2 separate regions of the Homo sapiens genome follow, and region 2 is linked to region 1. The links come from fine-mapping of genetic effects on gene expression. A gene starts in region 1. The other region holds a variant in brackets. All regions are shown on one strand. Distances are between the middles of the regions.

Region 1 (15,632 bases):
AGAGGACGTCAGTCACAGTGTTGGTTTTGGAGTCATGTGGTCCAGTGGTAGACCAGGAATCAGGAGACTCTGGGCTTTCCATCTCACTCCAACCGTATTTTCAAGTGATGAGCCTCTTGCCTTCTGTGAGCTTCCTGCAAGTGGGCTTAGCTTACATACTTTGCATCATCTGAAGGCACGACAAGAGAACATTGAAGAAAGAAGTCATAGGATCCTGTTTATTGTAGACAGGGGTCCGCGCACAAAAATCAGGATTTGGAGACAGAGGGAGCACTCAGGAGGCATGGTTTGGGGAAACTGAGTCAGGAGTTAATGACATATATTGAATCTTTTTGGTCTCCTGAAAACTCTTATGCTGTGTATGTAAGTCACCTCCTCTAGGCTGTCCCCCAGGCTTGCAGGGCCTGCTGGCAAATGGTCCTATGTGAGACTGCTTGCCAGGTGGCTGATGCTGTGCAGGAGGGGAGGGAATTTGGAGATGGCCAGTGTCTTTGCCTGCCGAGGGAGTGGAGACTACTGAAAGCCCGTAATAGGACAGTGGGGCACAAGGCATGCATTTTAACAAAGTTTATCCTGGTGGCCTCTTTCAGGGGTCCAAGGAGCTGCCCAAAGGCCCCCAAGGGGCGGGGAAATGGAGACCAGGTGGCTTGCACTTTGGACTCCCTCCCCAGCTTCAGGTGGGCTGCCTTGGGCTCTGTCTCCTTTAGACATGGGACTCTGAGTCAAGTACATGTCAAGAACGTGTTCCGCAGTGAAAAGGAGAAACAAGTTTGAACGCCACTGATTTAAACTAATACAGCAGATAGCATTTAATTCCAGTAAGTGGTTTTTCCCCTTCGGTGGTTTTGATATTCTAACAAGCCAACGTGTCTGGAGCTAAGACTCTCAGCTCCTTAATGGGGAAGGAAATCCTGGCAATTTCTCAGCCCCGCTGGACGCTCCTAGCTTGACCTCAGTTTCCTCACCTGTAAAATTGGGGTGATCTCAGCTTCACCTTCCATATGAAGCCATTGTAAGGAGCAGAGGAAGTGAGGAAAAGAGGCAAGTTTTCCAGTTGAGGAGACTGGAGGGGTGGAGTGTGACATAAGAACAAGCCTGCCCGCTGGGGTGTGGTAGGGGTGAAGCCAATTTCACAGCCTGGGCCCAAGAAAGAAACTACAACTTGAAGATAATAGTATTTACACAGATTGAATCTGTGATATAAAGTTTATGGTTCGTTTGGACTGTTCTGGAATATCCAATAAACACTGGGAGTAGAGGAGAGCAGGTGAGGGTTCAAGGCAGAGCTGGGGACCAAACCACCCACCTCTCTTCTCGGGCAGCCCATGGTGTTGGCATGATGTCCGGGATACAGAAGGCGCTCAATTAATGCTTGCTCAACCCAGATCCTGTCCCCTTTTCCTTCTCACTTGTCTTCCTCTGCTCCCCCGCGGGGATGACAGTTGAGAAAACTGTTGCTTTGAAGAGTTAAAAGGCAAAATCCTATGAAACTGTCCACAATGTAATTTTTGTGGAAGCCTGAGACCCCTCCAGATCCAAACTGTCAAAAAGCATGCATTAAACCCTCCCAGTCCTGCCACATAAGCCTCACCATCTAAAGGTTTGTAGAATTGTTAAAGGATGCCAACTAGTGGCTTCAGCAAATTCAGAAAACCCCAACCATGGTTCCCTGCCTCATTCCTCCCCATCTGCTCCCTCCTTCTCCCTGGGACCAGGCAATGCACCCCCTCTTCAAGTGTGATTCTGAACGTCCCCACCTTCTTGGGGAGGGGGCAGGATTTAAATCACAAGATATTTAATCAGAGTTCTCTCCTCTTGGTAGCTCAAATAAGAAAAACCAAGCAAAGCAAATCCATCTTTTCTATAAAACTTCATTTTGTAATTTTTTTCCAAGAAGTAGTAAGGGGGAAATATTGCAATTATGTAAAGGTAAGGAACAATGGTGTATAAAAATAATTTAAGCACAATATTAATAACAAAGCAACTTTTTTTCAAGGAAAACTAGTAGGTCATCTTGCCCAAGATTTTTCCAAAGGTATTAAATATATTTTCAATAACAGTACATACAAATACACATACACAAATATACCACACAGACACATGTGCACATACATGCACACACACACACACACACACACACACACACACACATATATATATACAGCTCAAGTATTTTTTTGGTGTGCATTCTAGCTAATCCACATAGCTAAAGTGAAAAAACACTGAAAAGATCAATGCCTGAGTAACCTTAAATTTGAACAAACTATGCATTGGATGTGAATTTTTGGAGGCATGCTAAGATTTCCCTTCTCAATTTCATTAGCTACTACCCAGTGTTCTGTGGTTCTTATCCTTAAAAAAATCAAAGTGTGCCTTTCAGATCTGCTCACGGTGTGGTGATGATTATTATGGTGGCGTCAATTTGGGAACACTTGCCCTCTCTTGCTCCTACTGCACCTTATGGATGGGAAAGGGAATGATTTTAAAGGTAAAGCACTCAGGCCCTGATTACATCTGGCTTATTCTTTGCTTCAAGGCAAGGATCTCTCTCTCGATTTCACAGGGGAGGTCGGCATTGACTTGATCCTCCAGATACTTCTCGATGTCTTCCACCTCCTTCTCCCAGAATTCCTTGGAGATGCTGAAAAGCTCCATCATGTTGATGTGCCCCAGGCCTTTCAGGTTCAGGGCATCCTCCTTGGGGATGTAGCCTATGGGCGTGAGCTTGGTGCTGGCTTTTCCATCGATCCGGTTGAACATCCACTCCAGCACCCTGGAGTTCTCTCCAAAGCCTGGCCAGAGGAATTTGCCTTCCTTGTCCTTCCGGAACCAGTTGACATGGAAGATCTTGGGCAGTTTGGCTGCTGGGTGCTGGGCCATGCTAAGCCAGTGGGCCAGGTATTTGCCGAAGTTGTAGCCAAAGAAGGGCCGCATGGCAAAGGGGTCATGCATGATGATTTTGCCTGTTAAACAGAGAGGGAGTTCATTAGTAAATGAGGCTCTCCTAGGCAAGACTGACGCCATTGATTGTTGACATTAGCATGCTTTGTTCTCCTCTCTCTCTTTCTCTCTCTCTCTCTCCCCACACACAGACACAGAAAAGGAGAGAGACATAAGAGTGACGAAGAGTGCTCTAATCCCACTTCTCTGTGGTTTCAGATCAGGACTTTGATTTACCTTTATGTTCTGCAGCCGCTGTGGCCTCTGATCTCATGGCCGCCCCCACAAAGACTCCATGTTGCCAGCTGAGAGCTTCATAGACTAGAGGGACACCTTTAGCAGGAAAAAAAAAGAGAAATGTTCATCAGAGGCTTTGAAATTCAGACTCCACAACCAGTGGTGTTATTCACAACACGGAAAGACACGGCAAGACAATAACTTTGTAATCGAGCTAGTTTTGCGTTCACCAAGCTAAATTGCAGAAAACTGCTAACTCAAAGTTACATGACTGAGGCCACAAAGTAAAAAGTAAAATTTGATCAAGCTACAATAGATCAGGGATTCAGAAAGGTTCCAGGTGACCAGAAGGGTTGGTTCTACATTTGAACTTGCCAATTATTCTGGATCTTTGGGAAGGAAGCTCAAGAAAGGAAGCCCCTGGGCACCCTCTGACAAGGTCATGGAAAAGGAGAGATTTCACAGATGCCCTTCGGTACCCAGCACACCCATGTTCCCAGCCTAAATGAAGGAGAGCCTCACCAGCAGGTCTACGGCCTCCAAAGATAATGCCTTCAATGGGAACACCTTCCGGAGACTCCCAGGCAGCATCAATGATGGGGCACTGGCTGGCAGGGGTGCAGAACCTCGAGTTGGGGTGGGCACAAGGTTCCCCTATAAGACAGAGAAAGGCTCGTGAGTGCCTGGCTCAAACAGGCAGTCCCTGCAGCCCGGCACACCAAGGCCTCTGGCAGGGACACACCATCCTCTGAGCTCCACTCCTTATTCTTCCAGGACGTGATGGTGACACCTGAAGCTAGCGGCTCATCAATGCCTTCCCAGTAAACGCCCCCGTCGCTGGTCTCGGCCACATTGGTAAAGATTGTGTTCTTCTGGATGGTCTTGATGGCATTGGGGTTGGTCTTCACTGAAGTCCCAGGAGCGACACCGAAAAAGCCATTTTCTGGGTTGATGGCCCTTAAATGACCTGGAGAGTTTTAAACCAGAGAAGCAGTAGTGAGTGCCAGGCAAAGCAGAACATATACTCTTATATATTGCCGGACTAATTTCTATGCCAACTTCTCAAATCTTTTTTCCCTCCCTAGAATATGCATTTATCTCTTTTCATCCAAGCATCATATGCAACTTTGATACGTTTACGACTCTTGCTTCCTCCACAATTTTCCACCAATACCATTTAAACAAATGTATGTATGTAAACAAACAGCAACATATGGCCCAGTTTCAATCCAGATTGAATATTAAGTTGAAGAATTCTTACAGGATCCATATTTCTAAGGCTTGGCCAACTCTGGACTAACAGAGTTTAAAAATCCAAACACTGGACTGAGGAGAATGTGACATGTTTCGAAGGCCAACGATTCGCTTGAGTCCAATCGTTACCAAGAGTTGGGTCTAAAAGAGTCACCTTGTGCGTCAAACTTCATCCAGGCAATGTCATCCCCGACGCACTCAACCTTCCACCCGGGGAGGCTGGGGTTCATCATGGCCAGGTTGGTCTTCCCGCAGGCGCTGGGAAATGCGGCCGCCAGGTACTTCTTCTCACCCTCAGGGTTGGTTATACCCAGAATCTGTTGGGGACAAGATTCTTTATTGTGATCTTTGTTTCCTTCTCCCCGAGGTTGGTACTTCAGCCCAGAGGTTGGAATGTAGGCCCTCAAGATCTATTTCTTCAGGTATCAGTGCAAACAAACACTCCCAGAATCATGAAGTCCAAAGGATCTCTATGGTCCCCTGGTGTTTGGGGGCCTTCAAAAGCGATGTATATGTGTAAACTAATCATTACTGGTGGGGTTTCCCGATCTGTCCGGGAACCTGCACGCTCAGAGAGGTGTGCTGACGGGTGGGAACTGTAATGCTGTTTGTTTCTGCCACCCCCCAGGCCTCTCATCTGCACATCAGGGCTTCCTGCAGGCTCACCAGCATGTGCTCTGCCAGCCACCCTTCCTCCTTGGCCAGCCGGCTGGCCATCCTGAGAGCAAAGCACTTCTTCCCGAGCAGCGAGTTCCCGCCGTACCCACTGCCAAAGGAGATGATCTCTCTGCGGTCAGGCAGGTGGGCGATGAGCGTCAGCTCCGGGTTGCAGGGCCAGTTGTTGACCAAAGGCTCTGTGAACAAGGACCCCTCCCAAGTCAGTGCGCCAGGGCCCTGCTTGGGGGTCCCCGAGGCACTCACTGGGGTTTGCGTTCAGCTTTCTTTTTTATTTTGACTTTTGATTCTGAAATAATACACTTACTTTGTAAAGGCAGAGGGCACCCCACAGAATGGAGGCATTTGACAAACTCCCCATCGCCCACTGCTTCCAGGACGGGCGTGCCCATCCGCGTCATGATCCGCATGCTGGCCACCACGTAGGGTGAATCCGTCAGCTCGATGCCGATCTTTGACAGAGGCGAGCCCAGCGGCCCCATGCTGAATGGGATGACGTACATGGTGCGACCTACAGGGTGCGATGGGTGGGCACTGGTGAGAAATGACCTTGGACTTCGAACACGACCAGCATTTTTTTCCCAGGTAGACCCATTTTCACGGTGTTCCACTAACACCACCACACCCTGCTGGTCACCAGCCCCCTGGGTTAGAAGAGGCCACTGGAAAGTGAACAGCCTGCTGAAATTAAAGAGTTTTCATAAATGTGCAATTGGGTCCCACCAAGCTATTTAAAACCCATATGCATGGAACTAGTTTTCACGTTTGTATAAGACAGTCTGTAAAAGCAGAAGAGGGATGTGCATTTTCAATACATTGCCAACTTCATGTATGGAACTGAAAGACATCTGAGGTGGTGGGAGCTTCCATTATTGTTTGAATTACCATTAGGATAGATGTAAATAAGAAAAGGCTCTCTGCTGTTTTACCCAATCAAATCAATGTTCCGCTCACCTTTCATGCACCCTGGGAACCTGGCATTGAACGCTTTCTCAAAATCCTCCTCTGACATCCAGCGACCGAGCTGGCTGAGGCCTGTTTTGGGGATGGGCACTGTGTCTCTTTGCTCTTGGGTGACGATAACCGTCTTGCTTTCGATCCTGGCCACATCCCTGGGGTCAGTGAGAGCCAACCAGCTGCAAAAATCACAGGCTTCCTTTCAGCCAAGCACCACGGGCAGCGAACCATCTCCTTCAGTACCGTGGCTTTCCATGCCTAGCAGAGTGCTGAGCACGCTAACAACAGTCCATCAGTGTGAACACACAGACCATCTAAGACATGGCCAGGTGGACATTTACTCCACTAGGACCTGGTCTGTAGGAGAGGGGCTGCCTTTTTTTTAATCAGGAATCTAGTTGGCAGAGCTTTTGTGCACACACCTCATTTAAAGCTTGGGCTGGCCCACTAATGTCACAAAATTCAAGTCTGTATGGTTCTGACCATTGCATTCATCTTCTCAAGAGTCTGAAACTACCCGAAGGCCTTCATTCACCTTTCTCCACCAACTCCCAGGAGACGCAGGGGAGCCCTGCCTGCAGGGTGCTGGGACAGGCAGCGGGGGCCGAGCTTACCAGTTGTCATACTTCTTCAGCCGCCTGAGGATGCCCTCTTCCTCCATCTGGCCCAGAAGCCGCCCATTCTCCTCCTCAGAGCCGTCACAGATGTGGATGTGATCAGGCTGACACAGCTCAGCGTTATTCTCGAGAAACTCCCTCACTGCCTGGGGTAGGCTGTCCAGGCTTCCCTGGACAACTTTGGCCGAGAGGTTCAGGCCGTTTTGCAGCTGAGGAGGCATTTCTGCAGAGTGCTGCTAAGGGGCACGAATGTGAGGTCACCTGAAATAGAAAACGCAAGCGTCCTGAACAAAAACAACAACAGACACCTTCAAACACATTCGACGGCCTTTTGCCAGGGCTGTGCATTGCCAAATAGTTATTGCTCTCAGGAAAAAAATGAGTTCATCTTTGTAATTTTTCAAAATGTAAATGCAAAGCTCTACTTACCTTTCTTCTCTTTGGATGATCTCGAAGGGAGATCCACAGGTTTCTTTCCGGGCTCTTCCCGCCAGCAAGTTTGTGTTCCCAGTGGGAAGGCCGTGCTTGGTGGCAGAACCTCCCAGCTTTAAATACTGTGGAAAAGAATAGCCCTGCCCCTCAGCTGCACCCAGGGAGGCTCGCCACTGACGTCAGGGGGCAGGTCTCTGGATCACGGCCAGGGTCAGTTATGCTTTGGGCCAACTCACTGCAACACGCCCCAGGGAGATAATCATTGAACAGATAGTTGTTAATGAATGCTGGGAGACTTCGAGCCCTCAACCAACCATAGTGAGTTTTGACACAACTTCCAACTGACTAAACCTTGACCCATTTTACTGCTGTTGCAAAACACAACACCCTTTTCTTAACAGGCAGGTGGGTCAAGGACAAGGTTGGCCGGGGCACCTGCTAGCAGCACATTTTGTGTACCAAGAGCTGCTGGTTGGCAAAACACCACAGCTATAAGATGTCACCCCATAGTCAAAGGTCACAGTCAAAGTTCATGGGAAGGATGCACCCTAACTTGGGCAAATATGTGGCTTATTGGCAAAGATTGGAAATGCCTAACCTAACTGGGGGCTAATCACTGTATTGATTGTCTGCTCTGTGCCGCCCCCGCCCCCTGCCCCGATGTAAACTCCATGAGGGCAGGGATTTCTCCCTATTTTGTTCATTTTTCTCTCTGTAGTGCTTGGCATAGAGTAGGCACAGGATGCACACATGCTGAGCACTGTTCTAAGAGCTTGGCATCATTACTACCCTCTGAGGTGGAGGCTATGAACAACCCATGTACAGATAGGGAAACTGAGGCAGAGATTGTGTAGCCACTCACAGCCGGCTGGTGGGTTGCAGAGTGAGGATCTGAACATGAGCAAGTTGGGCCCTGGAGCACCACGTCTCTCCCTGTGAGGTACCGCCACCTTTCCAGAACCTTCCCTGTGTCCTCCAGGGAGTTCTGGGCTGAGTGCAGTTACTCCTGCAGTCCACTGGCCACTGTTCTCTTCCCTGGCAAGTCTTAGAGTTTAGGGAGTGGAGGGGGCTTGGCAGTTTTGCTAGATTATATGCTTAAGCAATGAAACCTTTATAACAGTTGTAAAGAATTTGCTTTGCAAGCCATCAGACCTTCAGTCAAATTTAATGAGCTATGGAAGCTGCTTGCTGGAGTTTGGAGAACACAGGGTGAAATGTCAAAAGAACGGGGCTAGGTCTCAACCCCCCACAGCCAGCCCACACTTCCATGGAAGCCTCTCTACCTAAGATGAGGTCAGGTGGGGACTTGGCCCATCTCCCCGCTGGGGTGTGGGATGATCCCTGAGATAATCCCAGGACTGGGCTTAGAAAGAGCTGCTGTGGCAAATACAAGTCACTGTGAATGGCAGCCTCCGACCAAACTCACTTAGAGAACCCTCCTGGGGGCTTGGGTCACACTGTGTTGGGCGTGGGTCACACATCATCAAGTTCCACCAAAATTATCAACCCATTGCTATGTTTCCTGTATTCAGATTTTATTCAGCCAGTTGTGTCTTTCAGGATAAATATGATATGAGGTGCTTTTTGTTTCATTTGAAGTTATTCCCCGTTTAGGTCACTGGCATTTGTTATTAGTGGTGCTGTCATCCATACATAAGATCGTGTTGTGTCTAAACCCAACAGTGACGTGATGCTCAGTAGCCGAGGCCACTTCGTTAGCATCTGACATCAGTGAATTAGCCATCCCGATGCATGACCACAATTCCGTGACACACACATCACTCCCGGCGAGACTCATCCCACCAAATTGGTAGAAAGTCCCATTTTGCTGATAAAACGGTAACAGGTTTGAGTACCTGAAAGAGCACATAGATTGAAAACAAAAAGGGAAAGCAGAACTCATTTGGAGTCCTAAATGCGACCCATCCATTCCAGGTGCTTATGTTCTGAGTCTTCTGGGAGAGAAACAGCTAGTTCAAGTAAAACGTCAGAGCAGTGAGTCACCAACGACCTTCATCCGATCCTTTCATTACCTGCATTTACAGCGTGGAAGGACGGTAATGATTCCCCCGCAACTGTCCCTTGTCAAAATGTTAAAAAGCAAACATTGGTTTACAGACTTGCCTCAAAGGACAGAGTTCTCTGGAAGAAGAATCATGATAAAGTAGAGGGGTTTTGAGGACACACAGGCAAAAGTATGGGTACAGTTGCCTTAGGTCTTGGCAGATGATGCCCTCGGGCCCCCATTTTTCCTGTCCTTAGAGACTCCCTGCCCCAGTGGGGACTCATTGACAACAATTTCAAGGGGCTGGCCGGAAGCATGGGTCTTCCTCATCTGACTGTCAGCTTATTTGTAAGTAAGCCTCAAAACTAACTACTGTCTGTTGGTTTCAACAGGGACCCGAAGAAGCAGCCAAACAGCCACCCTGCTGGTGGGATCCCTGAGGACCCCCAGTTAACCCGCCGAGTGGACTTTGCAGTGTGTGCTCAGTGGGTGGGGCATGGAGGTGGCTCACGCTGCCTGTGAGTTGCGTTAGTTGTTTCTGGGACGGATGCCATAGAGACCTCCTAGCTTTTGGGGAGCTCCTTAGGCTCAGATTTTCTTAGGTCCAAGGCTGCTCTTCTTTTGAAAAATGTATAAAAAGTTGAGCCCAGATACAAAATTGGGGAAAGAAGGAGAAAGAAAGATCGGACACTAAAATAGTTTCAAACTAAAAGGGACTTCCTCCCTGCACCTTCCTGGGGCCACTCCATGTTTTGCAGTTACTCAGGGATATCGATTGCTTTTTCCCTGCTTTGTGACCACACCAGCTATATCCTGATACGAGATAATTAGACGGATTTAAAAAGGTAAAGAGAAGTTTTGCATCCAATTTGCTGCAATCTCATATTCTCTAGGAAGCCTCAGCTCAAACGTTTATTAAATGCTTGCTATGTCTCTAGCACCGGGCATAATAATCTTCATAATACTGGGCTTTCTCTGCATGCCAGAAATGGGATGCATTCCATGATTTTCTCCGATGTAGGTACCTTTGTTATCTTTCCCATTTTATAGATGAGGAAACTGAGGGTCTCAACCCAGCTGGGTATAGACGAGGGTCGAGAAAGGAATCATATTCATTCCTTCAACAGTGAATGAGCAGCTACTATTGCCAGTTCTCTAGATGTGTCCTCAAACTGAGAGTCCTTTTCCTGTCTATACTCCCAGCACATAGTCATCAAGCACTTGCTGAGCACCTACTTCATACTGATCCTAGGGTCCACTTCATAGTCTCAAGAGCATGCCTCACTCTTGGAAGGGGGCTCTTCTCTTGGAGTTTCATGCTCTGGGGTCACTGTCTTGAAATTCATAGTGATCTTCTAAGTTTGTGTCACTTCTACATTTGAAGGGATGATGGGGCACGCGGCGTGGCTCTTGTACAGTTCTGCCTCCCTCAGCCTTTCTGCTTCTAAGGATGGAGCCTCAGCTGCCCGCTCCCCTGTCTCTTCCTGCTAGGTGACCACTGCTGCCCTCCACCCCGACTAGGGTCTGAGCACAAGGGCAGGGAAGTCAGGTCAGAGTTGTGCGCCCATGAGGGTCTGCACTCATTCCCATGAGCATCCCCTGCCCAAGGGAGCGCAACATCAAACAGCAAATGCAAAACATGCCACAACAGATAGAGAGACCATGGGAGAAAGGAACACAGGTTTTTTTTTTTTTTGTCCTTTTTGAACAAGGGGCCCTGTGTATTTTGCACGTGGTCCCACAAGTTATGGAGCTATCTTGCCTAAGAAACAATTTCCTCAAAGACTTAAGATGGAGTTGGGGAGACCCCCACCCTGATGTTAGAGTATTTGGTTTATCATCAGACCTACATGATGGTCCAATTAAAGAAGTTGTACATGGCCAAGTGCCACATAGACAGTTCCAGTGGGAGAGCCAGGGCCACTGTCTGCTATCTAAAATGTAATCAAGACATTGGTACAGTGCTTTGCAGTTAGTGAGAACGTTCCTCGAACTGCTCATACAAGGCCCCTGCAGGAGGGGGCCAGACAGTCATGGCAGACCCAAGGAAGCAAGGGGAGTTCCAAACACAAGTCCTCTGGGTCCCCCAGGCCAGGGTGCGCCTGTCCACCACACTTAGTCTACTGAGCATGTGTTGGGGAAGAAGTGGTCAGTGACAGGGCCACCTCTCAGGTGTCATTTTGCACCTGTGATGGACTGTAGCCCAATTTCTCCCAGCAGCCTACCATGAAGGGTTCTGGAAGAGTGGGTGAACTGGACTTTGACGAGCCTGTAGAATGCCATGCAGGATGGAGCAGTGACAAAGACAGCAGAAAACACGCGCAGGGACAGCCAAGATGCAGCAGGTGTGACCGGGGAGGTGGGTGTGGGGAATGGCTGCATTCCAGATGAACAACAGAAAACAAAGCCATGACTTTGGCGGGGTCTCACAGTGGAGGATTCAGAGGACAGTCTGATTGCAACACATGTTGGTGTTTCTTGGTTACCTGGAGGCCAATAAAAGAACAGAAATTCTGGGCCGGGTGCGGAGGCTCACGTCTGTAATCCCAGGACTATGGGAGGCTGAGGCAGGCGGATCACCTGAGGTCAGGAATTTGAGACCAGCCTGACCAACACGGAGAAACCCCATCTCTACTAAAAATACAAACAATTAGCCTGGCATGGTGGCGCATGCCTGTAATCCCAGCTATTCAGGAGGCTGAGGCAGGAGAATCACTGGAACCCGGGAGGCAGAGGTTGTGGTGAGCCGAGATCTCACCACTGCATTCCAGCCTGGGTGACAGAGTGAGACTCCATCTCAAAAAAAAAAAACAAACACACACTCTCAACAGCAGTGCTTGGAGGTCATGTAAAGTCAAGGTCCGTGTTTTCCCAACTGGGCTCTAAGGGATTTAGGGGGATTCCACTCACCCCTCACAGAGGAGAGAGAAAGGCTGTAGGAGACGGGCTCTAAGCCCTCCTCACCCATGGCATCTCTGATTTGACCTGTTGTACATTTCCGGCTTCCATATTGGATGTTTGTGGTATAAGGAATTTCACAGCTGGAACATGTTGAAAATCCACACAGCACAACCAAGTTGTGCTGAAGAGTTGAGAACCAGAGACGGCAAAGACACCATTTTCCCAAGCTAAGGCTCTCACACACACAGCCACAACCTCCTCACTTCACCCCAGCCACCAACGGCAGTGACGGGAACACCGAAGGGATGACCACAAAAATGCCCCTTGGTTCAGGAATCTGAATTTGTAGGAAAGCCTGACTCTTATCTGGCAAAGAAAAAAAGGGACAGTGGTTTTCCTGAAGGTGACGAGAAACACACAGTGTAAATCCCATGTCCTGGGACGAAAGGTATTTACGCAAATCTGCCTGGGTCTCTGTTGCCAGGGATACTACTCACTGGGCACCCGACTGGCCCCATCATGAAGCTTCTGACAGCAGGAAAACACCAGTCAGCCCTGTAACGATCAGCCACAAAGTCATCCACCAGGGCGATTCAGGTCATCCACCCCACCTCAATTGTGTTTGTTAGGGACAAATATTTAGAAGTTTCATGTTTGTGGGATTATCTCAATGTCTTTGCAGTCTGGAGGGTGTCTTTACAGAGCTGAATGAGTCAAGTGCCTATTCTGATGCCATAGAATCATATAATTAAAAAGGTCCTTAAAAGATGACGTCACTCCAGCTCAATGGGTTGGGGGATCTCCTCTGGGAGAAATGTTTTGGATCTAGACAGAGGGGCATTACACAACATTGTCAATGTAGTAAATGCCACTAAATTTGCACCTGAAAATGGTTAATTTTTTGTTGTGTGAATTTCATCTCAATTTTTAAAAAAGATTATATCGTTCAGTCTTTTATTTTGAAGATGTGGGAACAAGTAGTGGGAGGATGGTATCCAAAGCCCACTCAGGGTGCAGGCAGGTCCCTAACACACCGATCACCCTGCCCAGACTTCAACCTAATCATTCCCGCTTCGCTACATGGCCTGTGCTGTCGTAAGGCAGTGAGCTCAGGGCTGAATGTACCCAGCAGAGAAAATTCATATCCTCAAAAACTCTCTCCCCAGAAGTTTTGTGATTTTGTTTGTTCATGTATTTTTTCCCACAATAAGGAAATAAAAATGTATCTAGACTTACACCACTTTGCTTGGTGCCTGTTATTAAAGCATGATTCTTGCTGCAAACATGTGCCCAGAAGACATGTTAAATATCCAGGTGTTAGAACCTTTGGGAGGGCTGGGTGTCTCCTGTTTCAATCACCACTGACCCACAGCAAAGTGACTGTAAAAGCTGGCGTATTTTCTTTGGAGCTTTCTCTGTCAGGTTTATGGGGAGGCCTAATGGCGCCCCAGCCATGAGAAACCATGCACGTGCCACAGCCCAACATTGCACGCCACCTCCATCCCAGGAAGGATCTCGCCCTTCAGAGAGCGATGTCACCCCCCTGTGATGCTGACCATTCACTTACATGAAGGCTGCAGCCCAGGGCAATAATAGGAGAATCACCCTCAGAAACAGGACAAGCAGATTCTAGAGCTACTCTCCTGTGTCTGGCACTAGTCTTCTGGGGACTTCTTAGAATGTGAGATAGAAGCATCCCTTGTCGTTTAAGCTGCGTGGAGTTGGGTGACCTTGTTGTTTGCAGCTAAAAGCATCCTAATGAAGACAAGATCCCATAGTCAGTTTACACGGAACAAGACTCAGGAGACCTGGGTTGGTTCCAGTCCCACCTCCCCCAGAAACCTGCCCAGGCCTCATTCTCCTCACTTGGGCAGTGCAGACTTGGATGAGATACGCTCTAAGGTCATTGCCACTGGGGAAGTCCTGTCCCTTTATCACACTGTACGCATTCCCTGCCACAGATCCTGAAGCCCATGGTGGGTTTGATGTCTGCCTTACTCCCCTCTCACCTACGCTGGATGACTGGTGGCCCTGTGTCTGCTAAGCAGCCCTTCTTGTTGGAAGCTCAGGAGGTCTTTGCTCCTATGCAGCATGCGCATATGAAAATGGGCTACTGAAGAAAGCTGGCGGGTAATTTAAGTCCACAGCTACCTTAGGTGGAAAAGGATGACTAAGGAGGATAAGACGAAATGCAGTGTAAAACTCAGGCTTGCCCCCATTTTTTATAGGCCTGCCTTAGTTCTCTCCTTCAGTTTGCATGTCATAGAGCATATCCAGATTTTTATTAAAATCTTTCCCCATTCCTATTTTTTCCCAACCTTTGTTTGCTTATGACTTTTAGAGTTGAGGGCACTAGGTGGCTACATGTAGTCTTTTAAAATGTGTGCACCATCTGTGTTAGACTCCAGAAGGACCGACGGAAGATCTGGCACACAAACAGATGGCTCCATCATGACATTGCTGGGAACGAGGTGTCCTTTGGGCAGCTCACTAGGCTTTGGTTTCAGTTTCCTCCTCCCTAAAACGGACATGGCCCTGGGGATCCACAGTGCCCTTGATTTCAAGTATTACAGAGTAAGCAAGTCCATTCTCTGAGTGAGAACAAATTTGCCACTGAATACTATTTCAAACACACTCACGGAGAAAAGACAGCAGCACCAGGCAAGGCATGAGCAGGAAGAACTAATTGCATAGTTACCACAAAAACAATCCAATGCGCTTATTTTGCAGTGAGAAAATGGATCCACTTTGCAGTGCAGTTAACTCTATTGGAAATAAAGATAATTGCTTGAGAACTGAACGCTACCCTTCCCCGGAGCTCCCTGGTAACTATGCAAATTGTTCCCCTTGCCTGTAATAGTGCAGCGCGGAACAAAAATGTCTTTTCTGATCCACGCTGGGGACAATTCCAAAAATTCAGTAAATCTGAGTCTCCCTGTCAGCTCCTCTACCAAGGAGGGCAGAATTCACATGTGTCAAGGCTTGGGCGATTGGACACATCACCCAGGGTGGGGGTCCGGCCTCAGCATGTCTTGTCAGGGTCACGGGCCTCTATCTTAGCTATAGAAACCTGAAATGTTTCCAAGTTGAAATATAGTGGAAATTGAGCACCCTCAGGACTGCTGTTCGTATAACCTGGTGCAGAAGTAAAGTCCATCCTCCTGCACACAGAAAACACGATTTGTCTGAAAAATGACCACAGAGTCTGATGAAAAAAGGTGCCAGTTGACAAGTGTCCTTCCCAAAACTAGCCTACATTGCTTTGAAGAAGCAACCTAGAAAGATCAATGGTAACGGGGAAAGAAATGTACATTTTGGTGTTTTCAATATTTAAAAAGCAAAATTGTGACGCAGATGAAAAATCTGCTATGGGATAACAGAATCACAAGCCAACACAGATAGGGAGGACTCATCTTCTCAATAAGTTGGTGGTGTTTCAAACAGGAACCTGGGAAGCAGGGTTCAGGGGCACCTGCACGTTCTCGTATAAGGTAAGGTCCGTAATTCTTTAACTTTCATTTCCATGGCTTTCCACCTTCCAATTTTCTGCCAAAAGCCGGCCTAGGTTATACAAGTTTTCTTTCCCTGGCTTGGCACAAGGAAGCAATGATGCA
Region 2 (15,632 bases), 21 kb before region 1:
CAGGGGGATCTTGGCTTTCTGCCTGTGAGAAGGAAGCAGTAGGGGCGGTAGTGTGTGGTTGTTAAGCACTCATGCTCTGCTGTTTGAGAGACCTGAATTCAAATCCTGCCTCCCTGTGTGGCCTCAGGCAAAGGTCTGGTCTCCCCATTTATACAGGGAAAGCACTGATAGCCCCTCCTTAATGGGGCATGCTGGGAAAACACCACTGTCTCGGCGTGCACAGCCTCATTTTCATCCTCCTTACTGGTGCCCTGATTCCCTGGACACATGTTCAGGGTCTGGGCTGCATCCAGCGTTCGAGTCCACAAGGAGCATGGGATCAGGGGTAAGGAGGACCAATCATAAACCCAGCTTGGTCACTTATCCTCTCTGGCTTCAGTTTCCCCATCTGTAAAGTGGGACTCAGGAGAGGCTTGCACCTGTCACAGCTCACCAGGCACAGGGCTCCACGCTAAGCCCTCCACATGTGTTTTCTCATTTAATTCTCACCATGACCCCACGAGCCAGCTATGGGCATGAGAGGTGGCCCCCACCTCCCATGGCTGTAGGGAAAAGAGCACGGGCAGAGCTTACAAGGGCTGGAGATGCAGTATAGGTGGCTCTATCACCATCCCGAAGACAGCGAGGCTGAACCCCCTGCCAGGCCTCCCCAGGACATAGTGGGGTCTGCAGGGCCAGCTTGAGGGTCCAAGCTCACTTGAGTGGGTGCCCCTTTTCCATCTTGCTTCCTCTTCACTCCTGCTTAATGTTGGGCAACATCAACCTCAAAAGCCTCGTTAAAAGACCAGGGCTGTTTAGGACAAATCGGTGGGCGGGGGGGGGGCCTGCAGGGTGGTGGGGGCTCCTTCCGTGTCTGTGGCCCTGAGGTGGCGTGTTCTGAGAGGCTGGACTGGGCAGCTCCCTAATGCAGCAGTTTCACAGTGGAAGCCAAATGAGCTCATCCTGGTTGAGCATTTAACACAGTCCCTGGCTCGTAGCACCCAAAACACATTGGTTATTTTTTAAAGATCCCTTCCGGTCCTAAATCGTATGACTCTGTGGCTTTGTATATGTGCATAGCATGAAGAAGGGACACCCAGGCGAGAAAGTGCTGAAGGCTTAGGATTAAGTGAGAGACCAATTAAGAAGTGAGTCTAGATGCTCCCTGGCCCCAGCTGCTTCGTTGCTAAGACATCTGTGGGAGTGTGATAAGATGGAGAAATTCACATTTATTCGAGCCCCTCTCAGGGTCAATTGTTTGTGGTTGTAAGGAATTCCAGGATAAATTACTTGAGCTGGAGATGAGGCCTCTTTCCTGAAGATGTGCCAAGACAACAGCACATACCACCTCAGACGTCTTCTAAGGAGGTACAGCCATGCCCCAAAGGGCTTTGGTTTGGCTGAGCAAGTTTGGGCTGAGCAGAATTGCCCAGGCCAAGGAAGGAGGCTGAAAATTCTGACAGCTGCCTTCTCCACCCTTAGTCTAAATTCATCCCATGCCTCCTGTGAATTCAGGATACATACTTAGGATGCCCAAGGGGCAATCTGCCTGGGGGGCACCCTCCCCTCAGTCTGTCTGAGATTCAGCCCCAAATTAAGAGACCCCTTTCTGTATGGAGAAAGATGGGAGAAAAGTAGGTTCCTTATGGTTAAAGTTCCACCAGCAGCAAGGAAACATCTCTTTTCTTTCCAGAAGAATCCACAGGGTAGAGAGTTCACTACCCTCTCCTGAAGTTGCCAAGGAGGGCACTGGGGCCACCTGGTGCATCCACAGTGTGTTCCCAGGAGTCCCTGCTCAAGGACAGGCTGAAAGGCACTGAGCTGGCGGTCAGGGCCTGGGACTCTGATCCAGCCCTGTGTGACCTTGGTAGGTCCCTCACCCCGTCAGGCCGCACCACAATAACATCACGTGATGCTCTCTAAGCTGTCACCCTCAGAGTGTATGCTCTGTGGACAGGGCCATGTCTGTCCAGTTCACCATTGTATCTTCATGTGTACAACTGTGCCTATATGTGGTAGGTGCACAATTAATATATGTTGGATCAGATTGAGTAAAATCAAAGATTTTATCCCCTTCCAGAGACAAGTGTCTGTTTTCCTTCTCTACCTGCCAGCCCTGAGAAATCGCACTCCTGTGCTCAGTGAATCCGCACCTACCTTTCCAGTCAGACCTGCTTCTTTACCTGGCCCATCGCAGGTATCTCCTACTGAGCTCGGAGGGCCACCTTGCCAGCTGATGGCCAGACACGGTCATTCCCACCGCCATCCCTTTCTCCGCGGCAGTCCTCCTGCCTGGTATGGCGTCTCTTCAGATCCTTTCCATTCTACAGCTCTCCACTGAACTCCATATTTCTGCAAGTCCTAAGCATTCCCCTTTCCCCACCACCCAATCCTTGCCCGTGTGTCCTTGTGTTGTAATGGAGATTGCTTTCCTAGACATGTGAACACTGCACACAATCAAATGATGAAAATATTTTAAAATGCTATTTTAAAATAATCACCTACTTTTTAAATCAGTTGCTGGTGTTAGCATAACTCTGTTCTCCATTGTGAACATTCACAGGGAGCCCACTGGTGTCCCAGCCAAAGCCCTTTTTGCGCAGCAGGGTGGCCTGCCTTGGGGGCTTCCATCTTTGGGTGGCAACCATTGTCTGAAAGCTTTGAAATGCAACGGTGAAATGCAGCTATCTTTTTTTGCCCCGCTGAGCTTTAGATGTTTCGGAGTCAGGACATCACAGCCAGGGTGTGGGGTGAGCTAGCCTCTGCCTGATCATTCCTTCCAGGAACAGAGGTTCCCCGAGTACCACAGTTGTTGCTCGCTTCACAGGCCACAGGACTGGACTTTGCAGCGTGTGCACCACCCCTCCCCCACACCACCCAGTGGCCCTGGCTACTGCCCCAACCACTCCTCCCCAGGCTGCTCAGCCAGGCCTGTTCTCAGAGGGAGTCAGGTTCCCAGAAAGAGACTTGCCTCGGGAAAATGCAGGGTTGGGGAGGGGGGCAAAGCAGAATTGTCAAGGGGGCAGCCCCCCTTGAATGCATGCCACCCCCTCATTTTCACATGGACCCCTCGGCCCTGCCCAGCCAGCTTCCCTGGTGTTCCCCACTCAGGATGGTGCTGAGATCCACTTGCTGGCAGAAGCCAAACATCTAGGGGTCATCTTTGGTTTTTCTTCCCCTCACCCCCAACACCCCATCCATCTCCAAGTCTGTCGGCTCAACCCCAAATGTGGCCTGAATCTGACCCCTTTCCACCCCCCGCGCCCCCTTCTCTCCCCTGAAGCCTCTCTTCCCTGGGATGGAGACCCCTCTGCTGCCTCCCATTCCTCTCCCGCACGTCGTGTCTACACCACTCGCCTATGCCAGTGGTTCTCGAACTGGAGCATGCACTAGAACCTCCCGGGCCCACCTCAAGACCCACAGAATCGAGCTCTGGGGGTGGGCCACCCAAATCACTCTTTCAGACAAATTCCCAGGTGCTGCTGCTGTCGCTGGGGAAGAACCACAGCTGAAGAACCGCTGGTCTGCATGAAACCCCTGCCTACTTCAAATCATAGTCAGGACCAAATATAAACGGTGCTGCAGGCAGGGGGGTCAACACACAGACTCGGAGCCACCATGGAGCTCAAGTCCCAGCTCTGTCATTTCCTGTGTGTCCTGGAGCAAATGACTTAACGTCTCTGTACCTCGGTTTGATTTTCTTCTCTGCAATGGGAGCAATGATAGTGCCTCCTCTCTGGGATCACTGTGAGGACTAAATGAGCTAATTCTGTGTCTCAGACTGGGTTGTCCCAGGAGCAGACCAGGAGACAAGAACATGAGCGATCCCAGGAAGCCCTAGCAGAGGAGGAGGGAAAGTGAGCCAGGGAAGGGGAAGGCAGACAGCAACACAGGGCACCTTAGCCGGTAAGTTATCCCTGTGGGCTCAACTTTTCTTGGGAACTTTGGGAGCCAGTGAAGAGTGCACAATTAATAACCCTGAGATCAAGTTTATTCCAGCCGGGAGGTGAGGGAGCCAAAGTATTTATCCACCCATCTTGGCAGAGATTGATTGCAGGATGCTTCTAGCCAGGGACTGTGTGAACAGCCTGCCGGTGCATGGGAAGAGCAGCTACAGTGGTCTGAGAAAGTCTCCAAGCCCAGGAAGTGACAGGTGTTTGCTGCTGGTCACCACTGGGTGAATGGTGAGGGCACACAAGTTGGTACCAAAAATATCAGTTACAACATGCAAAGCACTGGGTAAGAGCCTGTGTAGTACCCGCTCTTCTTACAATTCCCTGACCAGGGTCCCCATGGTCTGATCCCCTCACCAAAAATCCTTCAAGAGCGGCCCCTCCCATTCCAGCCTCCCCATCCCCTGACCTGCCTGGGCCACCCCCAGCCTAGAGCTTTTGCACCGGCTCTTCCCTCTGCCTGGGGCACCGTTCCCAGCTCTCATAGCCCTCAGTACCCCCTTCCTCACTTCTCAACCTCACCTCCCCTGATCAGAGCGTACTTTCCCATCTCTTCTCTCTGAAGCCACCCTACCAGTCACTTTCAATTCCATCTCCCCTTTGACTCCCTGCCTAGCACTTTGTAATCTCCATGTCTGTTTCTCTGTCTGGTGGCTCATGGTCTATCTCCACCTACTAGTCTGTTTCACTCCAGGATTCCACAAGCTGTAGTGTTTACTACCCTGTCCCCAGCATTTAGCAAGCATATTGTGAACACTCATTGAGTGAATGAAGAAATGGATGGATGGATGGATGGATGGATGGATGGATGGATGGATGGGCATGACTGACAGTCAGAGGCAGCAGTGTCATCTAAGGAGCACAGGTCCAGGATCTGGTACCTCAAGACTTGAATCCTAGCTCATTCCTTCCCCTCACATCCCTCTGACCCTCAGACCCACACCTGTCACTCCAGGGGCATGAGTGATCCCCTGACCTTGGGAGTTGGGCAGATTAGCCTCAACAGTGCAAGTGGGAGCTCCTTCTATAATAATTGAAGAAACTCATGGAACCCACTTATTTGAGAACAGCCTGGGCAGAACCAACATCTGTTCCCTTTTCCATCCTGGGCAGTCTCAGAGCCTAGAGGACTGGTTAGGGTTCAGTGTGGTGCGTGGAGCAGAGACTCAGGGGCAGCATGGCTTAAATGAAACAGAAGATGACTTCACCTTCATGTAACAGAAGCCCAGCTCAGCGTGGTCAGGCAACTTCTAGAAGTCACCAAAGACCAGACCCCTTCTACCGTGTTGACCCTCCATCCTCAACACAGAGCTTCTGCCTCATTGTCCAAGGCAGCTGCTTGTGCTCCAGCCATCATGTCCCACCTTCAGTCATCAGGAAAAAGGAAGGGATAAGCAGGGTTTTGCTTCTTCCTGTAAGGACACTTCCTGAAAGACTTCACACAAGACTTCTACTTACATCTTACTGGCCAGCACTTGGTCACACTCCCATATGACCAGGAGCTAAAAGTCAGGGGCCTTGTTAGCAAAGAATATGGGGAGAATGAATGGTGTGGTGCAGCCGGCAGCCTTGCCTTGGGAACCTTTCCAATGAGCCATTTGATTGCTCTATGATTCGTCTGCTCTGCGCCAGGGCCTGGAGCCACAGCAGGGAGCAAGTTCAGGAACCCCCCACCTTGAGGGGCCCACATGCCAGTGGGGGACAGTGAAGAGGACAAGTCAATACGCACGCAGTCACGATGCTTGCTAGGCCAAGTCCTGTGGGGAACACGGCAGAGGGGTAAGAAAGAGCATCGGAAGAGCAGGGGTGAGAGCCTACCCTAGCGCAGGGAGACAGCGAGGGCCCTTCTGAAGAGGTGACATTGGGACAGAGGCTCGAGGGATGAGAAGGGGCCACTGAGCATTTCAAGGACTAGGAAGTGCCTTGCGTACCCCAGGTCAGCTGCGGGTGGGCTGTGTACCCCTGGGCAAGTCACTGGGCCTCTCTGAGCCACAGTTTTCTCAGCTATGCAATGTGAGCAGCAGCCGTGCTCTCACCGGGTTGTGGGGTAGAAGGCTTTTTTGTGAGAATGTGTGTCTCCATGAAGAAATGAGGCTCAGAGAGCCTGAGAACCCTGCACTACATCAGTAGATCTCAGCTGGGGTAGATTTTGCCTGCCAGGGGTCACGTGCCAATGTCTGGAGACATTTCTGATCGTCGCAACTGGGGAGGGGGCTGCTGCTGCTGACATCTAGTGGACAGAGATGGCGGTGAGACTGAACATTCTCTAGTGCACAGAGCAGCCCCCACACTGGAGAAGCACACAGCCCCTCATGACAGCAGTGCCGAGGCGGAGGAACCCTGCCCTCCACAGCCAGGAGGTAGACACAGGGCCATTCACCGGAAGCCCACTCTTCACTGTGTTCCAGAGCCCCCACCCCAGACCCCTCAGCCTGTGCCCTTGGCAATAGGATCTGTCTGCTTTTTAAACAAACATCTCCAATGACTCAGACATCCACTGAAGTTTAAGGAGAACTAAACTTCTTTGTTTATCAAGTACCAGGCACGTAGTAGCCACCACCTCCCACCAAACCAAAATCCATTACAAGTTTAAAGTACAGCTATTATTTTTACAGCATTGCTTAGAAATGGCTTGCGATCTCTAATTTGCTAAATTGATGCGTATATTGACTAAATAAATATTCGGCACGAAGCCCGAGTTCCCCTCCACACTTATTAATCCTCAGGAAATGGAAACACAGGACACAAAATGAGCTTTCGCTCAGAGCTGCAGACAGGAATACATTATGTTGTTTTTCAAGCGTTCGGGGACTTGACTTTGCAGCAGAGACGGCCCAATCACCAGCCTCCAAGTTTTCCATGACGCACGCCTCTGCCCAGGAGACGTGCCTGTGTTGCTGAGGT[C/T]CCTTCTTGGACTTTAGAAGTCTAGGAAAAGAAACTTTTACTTCAACGGGGGGAATCTGAGGTGACTGTTTTTTGGGGAGTTGTTTTGAGGGGAGTTGATGGATGACAGCAATATTCGTACATAGAAATCAGGGCTGCTGGCAGGACCTACAAAGTGAAGACCCTGGGACAGGTCCCTTTCTTCAACAACTGGGGCTATTAGTGCTCTCGGCTCTGGGGAGAGAAGGCAGGGCTACCTGGACTGGGTGGGGGGCACTGTGTCTTCTGTCACCAGCCTGCCCCGGATGGAACAGCATACGAAGGGACTAGAGTACATGGGACAAGATTTGCTCTAGCTTGTCCCACCTGCGGAGACTTTGACCTCTGGGATGTTGATGAGTCCTGGGGGCTGGTCTTGTACCAGGATGGACAGGGGCTCCAGATACCAGGGGAACCCTAGTGGTGCTGGCCACCTCTGTCCTGTGTTAACTTCTAAAGCCTCCTGATCCCACGGAACACTTGTCTGTGGTGGGGGCTAATGGCAGTGAAGCAATATGGCCCAGAATTAGGAAAGAAGTTCATGCTGAGTTGGGAAATGGGGAAATGTTCTCCAAAAGAGGAAGAGGCACGAGTGTGCTTTTTGCCCTACTGGGGGAGTGTGAATCCCAAGAGGAGCTGGCATTTCACATCATCTAGCCTCTGCCCAAGGCCAGCCCAGAGCTTCCTTCCCAGACAAGATGCCAGGCCACTCCGGAAGAGAGGATGATTCCACAGGCTTGAGATGAAGGCTGGTCTCCTCTCTGCCCCCGACCTGTGGCATGACCTTGGGCAGTTCCAGTGACCTTGCTGGGCCTCAGTTTCCTGGTCTGAAGGATGAGGTTCGTGATGGGACCCCCCTGGTGACCGTGCCCAGCACCTAGCCCACAGCAAGCTCATCACTCTCAGAGGCAGCAGCCATTCCTTCTACCTGGACACAGCTGCCAACAGAAGGGGCTGGAGAATGGAATCCAGGCAGAAGGAACAGCCAGGACAAAGGTCCTGGGTGGGACCTGATCCCAGGCAGTAGATCAGAGCATGGTTAGCAGGTAGGATGGTGGCCTGGGGTGGCAGCAGAGAGGTGGCCAGGGTCAGATGACACTGGGCCTCGTGACCACCGGAAGGAGAGTGCATTGCATCCTGAGAGCAGTGGGCAGCCATGGGAAGGTTCTTAAAAAGGCAGCTCTGGGTCCCAGCCTCGGCAGCCCCAGGAACACGCGGCAGCCCGGTGGGGAGGGCAGATCGTGGGGACTCGGCTCCTGAACTCAGCCACAAAGATGAGCTGCCTTCCCCAAGGGCTCGTGAGAGGACAGCAAAGGCTGTGTCCCAGGACCAGTGGAGACTTGGTGAATTGAGAAAAGGTGGGGGGGGGCGGTCTCCTGGTGAGATGCCACTGCACTCACCTGAACAGGTGTCATAAACACCGCTGGCAAGGATGAGGACAGAGCGCCAGAACTCTCATCCGCTGCTGGCAGGAATGCAGAGGCACAGTCACTTGGAAATCTGTCTGGCAGTTCCTTAAAACGGTAAAGCCTATGTCTGCCTTGGGACCCAGCCCTTGCACTCACAGGTGTTTACCTGAAACAAAAGCACCCAGAAAAACCCTTGCAGGAATTCACAGCAGCCTCTCAGAATAGGCAAAAGTGGAAATAGCCCAGGTGGCCATGAAGGGTGGAATGGCCCATACCATGGCGGCAGACCCTTGCCATGGGGGACGGCGCAGCAGAGCAGGACAGGGAGCTGCTCCCAGCTCAGCCACGCAGAGAAAGCTGAGCAAAACAGGCAGACAAGTCCACGCCCTCCACAGAAGTCCACATGCTCCAGTGAGAGGAAGAAGAGCAGTGGCTGCGTAGGGCTCAGGATGGGGGGTGAGCAGGGAAGAGTACAAGGGAACTTTCTGGGGTGATGATGGGGCGTTCTAGACCTTGATCTGGGTGGTGATTATACACAGTTGTCCAAACTCCTCCCATGTTCCACTTAAGACCTGTGCATTTTACTGCAAGTAAATGATGCCTCAATAAAACATAATCCTCAACATGGGGTCCGCGTTTGGGTCTGGGGTCCACGATCTGCTCTCCTCCCTCTTCTGAGCTGCCCAGATTTCCCAGGCAGATGCTGAAGTTATGAGCAAGTGCGGTGCCTCATTCCAGGGCCGAGGGCTTCTGAGGCCACCACGCCTGCCTTCCTGCCCACATCCATCTTGTTATTGTCGGAGCCGGGGAATTGCTCCTGAGGCGGAATCTTGAATATTCATTTGATTTACGGCCTGCTGCCGACAGCTTTATGAATCCGCCCACCAATACCTGCAGCCGGTCATCAATCTTCCCTGGAGATTGTGCTTCTGCCAGTAACTCATGAATTAAAGAGGCCCCTGACGGCCCCCACGCCTGCCTCCCCTCCCATGCTGGAGCGTCGTGATGGAAGGAGGACCTGACCAGAAGTCAGAACATTGTTGTTTTGCCGCCGCGGCAGCTCTGATGACCTTGGGTGACTCTCTTTGTCTGCAGGAGGAGGAGAAACTCAGAAGCCCTCAGATCTGCCTCCTCCCAGCCCCGAGCCTCAGTTTCCCCATCCATAGAGATGCAGGGCACAGCACCACCTCCCTCTGCTTAACTGGGCCGGGGGCCAAGGCAGGACGGACTGCCAGCTTATACGAATGTGGGATGCCTGCCACTATTGTTATGATTATCTGACTTGGAGATGTTCGAAGGGACAAGAAAGATGGTGGTGCTCACGGCTCATTCCCCATGGTTGTCTCATTGACAGCATGGGAATGAAGACAGCATTTCCCTCGGGCTTTCAGGGGAGACCATGGGAGGGGGCTCAGCACAGCCCCTGGCACCTGGGGCAAACTCCATAGGGAGTACATATTCAGATTTTGCTCCAGGAAGGAGAAGTGGGGCAGGCTTTCGCTCTGGCCTTGGGAAGCAGCTCCAAAGTGTTTCCAGAGCTGACTCCTGGGCAAGTACCCCTGGCAGAAAACCATAGCATGTGCGGTGGCCTCAGAAGCCCTTGGTCCCAGTTGGACTGTGTCTGGCTTTCCCGTGAGTCCCCCAGCCCCTGCTGTGGAGACGGCACTCAGTAGATGCTCCAGGGTTGGTCCCAGTTGGACTGTGTCTGGCTTTCCCGTGAGTCCCCCAGCCCCTGCGGTGGAGACGGCACTCAGTAGATGCTCCAGGATTGGTCCCAGTTGGACTGTGTCTGGCTTTCCCGTGAGTCCCCCAGCCCCTGCGGTGGAGACGGCACTCAGTAGATGCTCCAGGGTTGAGCCAGCCTTTACCAACCGGTAGACACTGGTAACATCTGCAAAGCAGTTGGGGCCAGCAGATGGAGAGAGTGGTGGAGGCAGTGCCTCTGGGCTCAGACACATTGGGGTTCAAATCCCACTCTGTTCCTTAGGATCCCAGTGACCTTGGCTATCTTGGCCCCCTAAGCCCGGTGAGCAGGACACAGGTGATGGCTGCCTTAGAGGGTAGACTGGGCTCGGAGAGGCAGCCTGTTGGAAATGCCTTCTCTGCTGGTACACAGGAGCCCTTGGGAGGGTCAGCTCCAGTGGGTGTCACCAGGCAGTGTTCTGGGCACCAGAGTCAGAGGAGGTAAGGACAAGACAGCTCCTGCTCCTCGGGGGTTCACTCAACAAATGTTCATTAGATGGATGACAAAGAGCTCTTAACACTTGTCCCCGGGTTTTGCCTGTGAAGAGAGTTGTGAAGGACACATGCAGGGGAACCCCCTCCCAGGGACTAGCTCCCACCCATCCCTCAGCAAGGTGGCAGCCTCTCCCGGGATTGCAGTTTGCCACAGTGGTGGAGGAGCTGTCAGGCCTCAGGGTGCCCTTCCTGGGGCTGAATGACAGCAGATCGATCCTCGCTTCTCCTGGCTCTTCAGCCTCCCGCAAAGTGCAGCCGCAGCCCTTCAGCCAGCATGCAGCAGTGGGACTCCTCTGCCCAACAAACTTTTCCCTGCAGAATTCCACTACACACAGGAGACAAGTACTGCACGGAGCCCACATTTATTGAGTGCCGAGAGTATCCAAAGCACTTGGTGTACACCCCTTCTGTGAGTCTTCTCAACCCTGTAAGTAGGAAGAGGGAGTTGAGACACAGAGAGGTTAAGGGACTCACTCAGGGTCACACAGCTCAGAAGTGCCTGGCTGACAGCGGAGCCCACTTATCACCCCTAGGCCCACTGCAGTCTGGCTCCAGCTGCTGCCTGCTGATATCAGGGTTCGAGATGAGACTTCTCTCCCTGAAACTAACCATGTGACCTGGGGAGAGTTACTTTGCCACTATGAACCTCAGTCTCCTTCTCTGCAAAGTGAGAAGACTGAGACCCGCCCCCAGTTGGGATGTTGACTGAATTGACTATGAGGAAGCACCTGAAGCCCCAGCGCAGTGCAGTGCTGGGCCATGGGGTGCTCAGCTGCACACCCCTCTCTCCCCTTCCCCACCCCTTTGATGTGAACCTGGACTCCCTGTGCATGGGGAGTCACGGCCAGAAAGAAGGAGGCCAAAGTTTACTGGAAGAAAGGCCTCAGCTTCTGGGAACGGCACTTCCCAGGGGGGCCCGGTTTCTGATCCATGGACTTTTCACCTTGGCACCAGCAACCTGACCACGCTGGCAGTGTTTACCCCGTGGGAAGAGGAAAGGCCTAGGTATGTGCAGAAGGGTGTGCTAGGGCAGGTCAGAGCCAGGGCATTTGGACCTGGGTCACTGACAGCCCCTGGCCCCTGGAGCCTGAGACACAGGTCCCTTTCCCAGTGCTTCAGCCAAGCTCTCTGTCCCCACCCTCCTTCACATCTTGTTCTCCAGGCTCAAAGATGCAGAGATAGATGATGATAAAAGCCACTGCCCCTCTCCTAGGAATTTGCACCCAGGGTATAGACAAGAGTTAAAATCCAAGCTCTCACCTTTGCTAGCTGTGAGAACCTCTCTACTGCCTCATTTCTGGAATGGGGCACATTCCAGAAGTCACAGTGTTGAGGGAAGGATCTAAAGAGATTGTGCCTGGAAAGGCCTTGACATACCTTATCTCTCAGTGAGTGGGAGATGTTGTCACTATAATTATGGATGCTTAGGAAATGTTTACTTACTAGATGGATGGGCAGGAGATGAACTGATAGACGGTCGGATGGAGGATGGATGATGAATAGATGATGGATGGATGGACGTGTAGGTGGGTGGCTGCATAGATAAGTAAATGGAGATAGGTGGACAGATGGATAGTAGCTATGCACTCATCCACTATCCATCTGTCTATTCTCCACCCACTCATTCACCCCTCCCATTATTCATCCATCCATCCACCCATCCATCCATCCATCCTTCCATTCATTGATATGCCCATCCATCCAGCTGTGTATGTGGGGAGAGTGGGTAGATGGATGAACAGGTGAACAGATAGATGGATGAGTGGATAAACAAATACATAGGTGGATGGCTGGCTTGGTGGGTGGATAGACGGTGGGTGGATAGATGTTCAGATGGACAGATGAATGAACAGATAGAGAGATGAATGAATGGACAGATGGATTGCTGGATGGCTGGGACCACAAACTAATTGCCTCCTTCCTGAAAGTGACAGAAAACAATTGCTGAAGCTCTCTCCCGATACCACATACATTAACCTGGCTGCAGGGGGCCAGAACACTGCAGCCCTTCCCAATCTGCTCATTAACTGACTCATGGAGCTTTCACCTATTCAAAACCAACAGGGTAGCAGCGTGACATTTCAGATTTCCTTTCCTTGGCCTTTCACTGAGCATGGCTCACAGCTGTTTGCTGGTCTGCCTTCTCCAAAGGTGCCTTCAAGGCCCTCACATGCAGTAATGGATGCAGCTTCCCCCAGAGCTAAGGGGGTTGTGTGCCCTAAAAGGTTGGGGGCTCCTTCCCTCCGGCTGCCTTGCCACATTCTCTCTGCAGCAGTGCCACCAATTACCTTAATTACCTTTCAGTTAGGGGCTTAATTTACAACATGGTGGCAAGGAAGTATTGAAGAGAGAGTTTCCTTGGCAACCCAAGTTTTTAAACATAAGATTCTCCATGTTTTAAAAGCCACTTCTCATCTAATTTCCTCCCTGAAAATTAGCTTGGGACTTTTCAAATACTGGAAATTTTAGCCTAACGGCAGGGTAGCACTTACATCTGAAACCATCAAAGACCTCAATTTCTCCCCTGCCAGAGGCAAGACCCTGGGAAGGTGTTTGGTTTCCTCTGCCCCTTTGTTCTGAAATGGCCATTAAGAAATGACCATGGGGAAACTTTTTCTGAGCTCCAAACCATCAATCAGTCAAACTCTTGACAACAGCCTGTTTTCTAGACTTGTGTTGTTCAAGTTCCTTGTTGGCTGGAGTTTTAGCCATGAGCACTTGATTGATGGCAGACTGCAGAATAGCTAGAGGGTTAGGGCCTGTACTCCATGGCGTCTCTGGCCCCCATATCCCCAAGTTGAGAAGAACAGCACTGATAACCACCCCCAGTGCAGAGGGCATACAATACCAGAGGAGCTTTTGGAAAAGGCCACTCTCCCTGGGGGCTCGCTCATCATCCACAAGCTTCTCTACCTCCCTGTCTAACAAAATCAACCCTTGCTCAGTTACACGGCATGGTTTTTCATAATCTGCCCTAGCATGGGAGGGGGCCACACTACCTTTCTTCTGTTCCCACTTCCACACCCTTTAATCTGACCAAACCTCTCATCCATCCTTTCAACCTCCAGCCGTCTACACAGCATCTACCTCTCTACTCACCCTCTGTTGATTCTCCAACCACTCTACCTCCATCCACCCAATCCTCACGCAGATCCCATAATCCGCTGGAATGCCTACAGTTTTCCAGTTATATCTTGACTTTCCAAATATGATGTTATTTTATGAGAGTACTCAAACACTGCTTCCTCTGAGGAGCTTTCCCTGATGCTCCTTCTCCTTCCTCTGAAACTTTGAAACAACCTGTCTACACCTCTCAGGACACCTAGCTTGTCTGCTATGTCTGGGTGCAGTTATTTGTATCCTGAGGGCATGTGGAAAAACCAGGCAGGGCTAATTCAAACTCGGCTCTCACAGATGGGGAGCTATGTGTCCTTAGTGATAAGATGAAAGGATGGATTGAGGATGGATGCAGGGTTGATCATTGATGGACTGGATGGAGATCAGATGAGTGACTTATTGGAGGTTGATGGACCATTAGATGGATGTACAGATGGATGACAAGCATCCAGAGGCATAGATAGTTGGAGAATATGAGAAAGAATAATTAAATGGAAGAGTAAAGGCTGGAACAATGAATACAAGGGTGGATGAATGGATGGAAGGAAGGAAGGATGGATGGATGGATAGATGGACAGAAGGATGGATGACTGGATGGATGAAAGGAAGGAAGAAAGGAAGGAAGGAAGGAAGGAAGGAAGGAAGGAAGGAAGGAAGGGGGGAGGTGGAATGCAAATGCACCTTCCCTCACTGCCCAGGCAGAATTCCAAAATGTGAGGGGATGGAACAGGAGACTGACCATCAGGCAGTTCTGAATGGGGCAGAATAGTAACGTAGATTCTCCTTAGAGAAAATATTACTCCTTATACCTTGAGGCTTGAAGTTTTTCAGTGACCCTGGGAAAAGGACAGGGCCCCCTGTGGGACCAATTCATTAGGAAAGACAGTCCTGATCAGCTCATCTAAGCACTTGGGCTGACTCTAAGTGCCAGGCAGTCAGAAGCTGTTCGATAACTATTCATTGGAAAGTGACAGATTGATCTTGGAGAATTGCCATTCTAGGGAGGCATCCGCCAGCTGGGAACAGAACAAAAATGTCACTCCTCAAAGCACATTCTCTCATGCTCAGCAACACGAAAAGTTGACCCTGCTGTTACCAGCACAGACTTGAATCAGTAGTTGTTCTCCACACTTATGCAGTGACTGTAACCCCCATGTTAGAGGGGCCCCAGGGACCATCACTTCACTGATAGAACCCATACCCATGGTGCAAGGAGGTCTGACCTCTTCTGACACATCTCAGGGCAGGACATGAAGGACATGAGGTTGCATCAGGTGAACCCACCGAAAGTTGAGTTATATGTAACCCAGTTCCTGGGAGTCAGTTTGTCCATGAGGCCAGGAAGACCCAGTAGAAAGAGAACCCCTGTTCCCACAGCCCGAGTTGTTGGGGAGTTGAGTGACACAGGAAGTCTGTTCTAAACCAAGTTAGAAGGACATCTGGACCCAGTCCCTTTCCAGGAAGGAAACTCTCACTAGCAGCTGATCGCAGACAAACTCCGAGGCCAAAGGAAGGTGGAAACACCTTCACCTTTCCTCCTGAATCCCCATCCCAGCCTGCAAGGCTTGACTCAGAACAGCTGTGTCTCTCAGCTGTGCGCTCTCATCTGGGCTCTGAGAGGAGAGGTGCAACGCACACCTCTAGGGGGTGCTGTCCACAGGGCCCCTTGGACAGAACAGCAGGTTTCACTGTGCATTGTGGTCACAGGAGGCTTTAGGGACTCAGATTCCCAAATGCTGCCTCTAAAAGACCCAGAAGGCTTCCTAACATAACTCAGCACTTTGTGTTGTCCATAAAATTCGGTCTCTCTACTTCTCTCATCAGACCCCCTCCCCACTAGAAATGCGGGTTGGGGAAACAAAGAAGGGGAAAGACAAATTCACTTCTCCCTTATCTATAAAGTGTTTAGCTAAGTGCTGGGCACACAATAAGTGTTCAATAAATAATCACTATTAGGAGAGGGTGAGATGGAGGAAATTGGACAGATCAGAATTTAATTCTGCCATGCTGATTT

Alleles and levels. Alleles are on the strand shown, and positions count from the first base shown. SD is a standard deviation of normalised expression in the study named.
With allele C in place of T in region 2, the expression in tibial artery of the gene that starts at base 7,203 in region 1 is higher (small effect, 0.21 SD a copy in GTEx).

What was found. PIP is the estimated chance that this variant, and not a neighbour inherited with it, causes the effect.
Region 2: its variant is fine-mapped to the expression of PCK1 in tibial artery (GTEx, PIP above 0.99).

Annotation. Positions count from the first base shown.
Region 1 is chr20:57,552,681-57,568,312 of GRCh38, reverse strand. PCK1 (phosphoenolpyruvate carboxykinase 1) reads right to left here and starts at 7,203. Exons shown (of 10, transcript NM_002591.4): 1 at 7,110-7,203; 2 at 6,678-6,941; 3 at 6,061-6,242; 4 at 5,414-5,617; 5 at 5,098-5,285; 6 at 4,586-4,748; 7 at 3,920-4,144; 8 at 3,700-3,831; 9 at 3,178-3,273; 10 at 192-2,963. The coding sequence starts at 6,901. The coding sequence ends at 2,509.
Region 2 is chr20:57,573,698-57,589,329 of GRCh38, reverse strand. No RefSeq gene overlaps it. Among named protein-coding and RNA genes, the nearest start is that of PCK1, 20 kb to the right of the region's middle. RefSeq lists an enhancer at 2,703-2,997. The variant C/T (reference allele first, on the strand shown) is at 6,837.